Linked DNA regions of Homo sapiens: region 1 is linked to region 2. Evidence: fine-mapped expression QTL. Tissue or cell type: whole blood. Region 2 holds a variant in brackets; the other region holds the start of a gene. All regions are shown on one strand. Distances are between the middles of the regions.

What was found. PIP is the estimated chance that this variant, and not a neighbour inherited with it, causes the effect.
Region 1: FBXW8 starts here. The variant in region 2 is fine-mapped to the expression of FBXW8 in whole blood (TOPMed, PIP above 0.99).

The regions. Positions count from the first base shown.
Region 1 is chr12:116,909,632-116,912,131 of GRCh38, reverse strand. FBXW8 (F-box and WD repeat domain containing 8) reads right to left here and starts at 1,182. Exons shown (of 11, transcript NM_153348.3): 1 at 777-1,182. The coding sequence starts at 1,094. RefSeq lists silencers at 715-974, 1,135-1,354.
Region 2 is chr12:117,009,056-117,011,811 of GRCh38, reverse strand. It overlaps FBXW8 (F-box and WD repeat domain containing 8), which reads right to left. Exons shown (of 11, transcript NM_153348.3): 8 at 1,362-1,489. Among named protein-coding and RNA genes, the nearest start is that of TESC, 89 kb to the left of the region's middle. RefSeq lists an enhancer at 1,344-2,095. The variant ACG/G (reference allele first, on the strand shown) is at 1,420.

The DNA.
Region 1 (2,500 bases), 100 kb after region 2:
GGACTTCCTTTGGGCCTAATTTAAATCAAACCATTAGAACCTGGAGCCTTGTCCTCTTAACCTGGGAGCCACGGATGCATTTCAGGTGTTCTTGATTTTCCCAACTTTCTGAAGGGGATTATTTTTAACGGACACAGGGTCCCCAGCTTCCTCCAGATTCTCCAAGGTATCCACGCCCCACAAAAAGATAAGAAACTCTATCCTAATGAAAGTGCCCAGGAGATTCTTCCTCCTCTTCTTCCTTTTTTTCTGAGATAATTTTTTTGAATACGTGCACGGTTACAAAAATTAAATAGTGCAAACAGTATACAAAGGTAAAATTACTTCCTATCCATCATCTGGGTCCTCCTTTTCAAAGGCAACCTTTGTTCAAAGTTTAGGTAGCCTTCAAGAGCAGGATTTCTCAACCCCACACTTACTGATATTTTGTCCTGGATAATTTTTTTGTGCGTGGTGTCCTGTACACTGTAGGATGTTCAGGAGCATCTCTGGCCTCTACCCACTAGATGCCCAGTAACATGCACACATACACACCCCGATGAGGCACCCAAAAATGTCTGCAGACACTGCCACATCTGGGGGAACAAAATCGCCCTGGTTGGGAAGTGCTGCTTCCAGAAAGACCCCTATGCAAGCACAAACATTGGTGTTTGTGCGTCTACTCATTTTCTCGGGCAACTAGTGGCACACAGTTACTCTCCAAATCACTGCAGGGGTTTGTCCTGGGGGCGGGGGCCGGCGCAGGCATGGGCGGGGGGGAGGCGACGGCCACTCACCAGGTCGCGGATGAGCTGGTCCACCAGCTGCTCCCCGCCCCCGGCGCCCTCGCGGGCCAGAGGAGAACGTGAGCGGCTCGCTACGTCCTGCCCCTCGGCCCGAGTCGCCCGCGCCGCCGGGGGCCTCCCCGCGCCCTCCAGGAGACGCTGGGCCAGCGCCGGGTCCCCCGAGGCCTGTTCGCCGCGCCCGGAGCCCACCTCCGGCCGCCGAGCCCGCCTCTCGGCAGCCTCGGGCCGTCGCCGCTTCTTCGGCGCCTGGGCCTGCGCCAGCTCCTCCTGCCAGCGCCGACGGAACTCATCCAGGCTGTAGTCGTCCATATTCGCCGCTCCCGGCGCTCCACGTTCTCCTCGGTTCCACCGGGTGCCACGAGACAGTCCCGCCCAGGGAAGTGTCCGCCGCGGCCGGAAGCCGCTGCCGCCGCCGCTCTAGGGTTCCGGGTGGGCGTCCACGCCCCCGCCACGCCCCCGGCGCTGCCCCTGTACGCACGTGGTGGTCCGGCTTGTGGCTTGTGGCGCCCAAAGCAGAGGTTTACGCAGCTGCCCCTCAGCCCGTCAGCTCTGCTGCCTATCACTTTTGCTAAGCTCTGACTTTGCGCCAAGCATTGTTCCTTCATTCAACAAACATTCATTCAGCAACTACTATATGCCAGGCACCAAGAATTCAGCATTTAAATCTGTAAAACAAAACAAAAACTCTGACGTCTTGGAGCATGCGTTTAAGTAGGGAGACTTTAAACAAAGAAATATGAACATTTAAATCAGTGATAGGTATTAGGAAGAAAACAAAATAAGGTAAGGTAAGGGGAGTAAGGATTGATAGTGAAAGTCTGTTTAAGATGTTATTTAAATTAAAATCTAAAAGAGAATCAACAGGTGGATAAAGAAACTGATATATACATATGGTGGAATACTACTCAGCCATAAAAAAGGAATGAATTCATGGCATTCGTAGCAACCTGGATGGGATTGGAGACTATTATTCTAAGTGAAGTAACTCAGGAATGGAAAACCAAACATCGTATGTTCTCACATATAAGTGGGAGCTAAGCTACGAGGATGCAAAAGCATAAGAATGACTTATGGGACTTTGGAACAGGGGAGGGGGACGAGGGGAGGGTGGGAAGGTGGGGAGGGATAAAAGACTATAACTTGGGTTCAGTGTATACTGCTCGGGTGATGCGTGCACCAAAATCTCACAAATCACCACTAAAGAACTTACTCATGTAACCAAATACCACCTGTTCCCAATAACCTGTGGAAATAAAAATTTTTTTTTAAAAATCTGAAAGAGAAACCAGCCAAGGGAAGGTCAGATCTTAGGAGAGAGATTTCCAGAAGGAAATCCAAGGGCTTTAAGATGGGAAAGAAAATGACATACGATGGCGTTCCACTTAAAAATGTTTTCTTTGCACCTGATATTCCCTCAGCAGGGAACTTTTCCCCCCACCTTGACTTGGTTAACTCCTACACATCTTTCATATCTCAACTCACATTTCACTTAATCTTCCAACCTCCACTCAAGAAACATCAGGTATCCCTGTTACTCATTCTCACAGCATCCTGTACTTCTCATCATAATACATAACACAATTTGTAATTTTATTTTTATGTATATATATATATCCCTTCCCTTCTAGATTGGCAACTCTTAGCTTTGAGACTGGTGATTAATACATGCTCAATAAATGGTTTTTTGTTTGTTTGTTTGTTTGGTTTGTTTTGTT
Region 2 (2,756 bases):
GGTTTCCGGTGAGCCTAACTGTGGCTGAAGATATAAATGTTCACACTGCAAGCAAACTCTGAGCACCATCCACCATCCCAAAGAGCTCTCCACATCGCCTCTCCTCAAAACCAAGCAGCTGCCAGGTCCCTGTGTGGAGATCCTAGGAGAGGAGCTTGGAGCCTCTGTATAGCTCAACCTGAAAACTAAAATGCGGGATTAAAACTACAAACTGACTTGATTCTTTTGCCGTGCCACATGTGGGGCCACTTATCAAGCCTAGTTTCTAAAGAGAACTAGCCCAGTGCGTGCCCCACACACACACTGAGGAGTTCAGTTCTCAAGCACCGGAACATCAGCCATTTTAGGAGGCCTTATTTTTCTTCCCAATAAAGCATACTCACATCATTTCCTTGCTCTAAGTTGGGGGTGGGTATCTAGGGGTGAAGGTTGGGAGGTGAAAATATTATTTGACAGAATAACTATTTTTGCAAGCTGCTGCACTGGCGGGACAGAGGCCTGGGATCTGGCACAGAGGAGTACCCGCCTCACGATCTGACACCCGCCTCCGAGCAGCCCGCCACCTGCAGCCCGGGGCCGGGCCCAGGGGAGGGGGCGCCAGCAGCCCCTGGCCCTCAGCCATGCTACCTCTCTTCAGGGCACTGGATCAGACACAGCAGATAACTGGCCAAAAAAAAAAAAAAAGGAAAAGAAAAAAACAAGGAAAGAAGAGGCGGGGAGAAACCTAAAATTTGGACTCAAAGGGTCTTTTCAAACACTTTAATCCTTTTGTGCTGATGGTTCCTGGGGCGCCCGGGGCTGGCACAGGCCCCTATACCGGGAAAATCCGACTCCCTAAGCCAGTGCATTAAAGAGAAGGCTGCTAATCAGCTAAATAGAAAGTGGAATCTGTTCACATGAAGTCTCTCTTTCCTTCCATCACCAGAGGGACACCACCGTGTTCTGAAATACACTCTTGACATCGTTTGGCAGGAAACCCTATTTTGCTGAACATGATTCATCCCTTAGGTTACTGTTTTTAATATTAGAAAGTGAGCTTTCAAGTGCCAAACAAATTTTGCAGCAGGGGACAAAAGATATTCCAAGTGGTCTCCCTGGACCTTCTACCAACTGCGGCCACCAAATGGCTTAAAAGAAAACCTTCCCGTGGTGCTTCAGAAATGAAGCAGAGACATAGCTACATCCAACTATTACCTAATACAGGACTTTGTTCTCTGAGTCTAGAGTGTTTATGGGATCGGGGCTGAACTCAGGTGGGCAGAGCTGTTGAGTGAGAACCGGGCAGTGTGAGCAGCGCAGTGGGGGCCGGGCCTTGGCAGAAGCCATGGGGCTGCAAGGCAATGCCCTTCCAACTCACGTACCTCCCGTCCATGTTGCCACTGACCATGAGGTTGGGAGGGCTGTCGCTGAGGTTGACAC[ACG/G]TGAAGTCACGGAGAACGTTACCCAGCTTCAAGAGGCGGCGTCCTGCTTCCAGGCTATACACCAGGATCTGAGAGAGGAAGAGAAATGTGTGGGCCCACAATTCCACACACCAGGCCGACATCAAATACTTTCATTTCACCATCGTGGAGGGCATGATCCTTATCACTGAGCTCCCGTGAAGATGTTCTGCCACTTAATTTCCTGATCTTTTTCAGGTTACTGATAGTATAGGGACATGGCTATTAAGAGTGCCAAAAAGAAATGCAAAGGAAGAGAGAAGGAAATCCAGCGAATTCCTCAAGCCAAGGTGCACACTCAGGCCACAAGGAAAACGCAGGGAAATCAGGTATTCTAATTTCTTAACAAAGAGAAAGCCGTCTGGAAACCACGGGGCCACTGACTGCTTCTGATTTGGAATGAATGGGAAAGCTCGCAAAGCATCAGGAAGCTTGCAGATGAGCCAGCATGAGTTCTCATCTGAATTTACGTCACAGGCGGGAAAAGAAAGAATAGTACAAGGACCAGGAAGATGAAGCTTGCATAGCCACTGGATGCTTCCTTCGGACTGAACTATAAACCAAAACACAAACTCACTCCCAAACACTTTTCTCTTCACTCTCTGCTTGCTAATGTTAGGATGCTGTGTTCCATAGGGTATGAAAGTAAATAAGAAGGTACCCCTGATTTCCAGACAATGCACTGTTATATTAGAACACCTCTGTGTCTTCTCTCCAGCAGGGGGAAATTTACGTTTTTTGCTTAAAAAGTATTAATTCAATTCAACTTAATTCAAAGAACATTAAATGCTTCCTATGTGTCAGTCACTGTCGTAGGTGCTGAGGACAGAGTCCTTGCCTCAAATTCACATTCAGAAGGCTCCTCATTAACACACACACAAACACACCAAGTTCTGAGCATACTTTCTATCCTGGAGATCATGTGGTTGACATTTTTAAATTAATGAACTCAGAAGTTTTTGGTTTTTTTGAGGGGGTGGGGGAACAGGGTCTTGCTCTGTCACCCAGGCTGGAGTGCAGTGGCAACATTATAGCTCACTGTAGCCTCAAACTCCTGGGCTCAGCCAATTCTCCCACTCAGCCTCCCGAGTAGCTGGGGCCATGTGTGTGTAACACCACGGCCTGCTGATGATATCTTTCTTTCTTTTTTAAAAAATTTTTTAAGTAGAGAAGCGGTCTCACTATGTTGCCCAGCCGGGTCTCAAACTTTTGAGCTCAAGTGATCCCCCTGCCTTGGCCTCCCAAAGTGCTGGGATTACAGGCCTGAGCCACTGCACCCAGCCAAAGGTTTTTGTTTTTGTTTTTGAGACTGAGTCT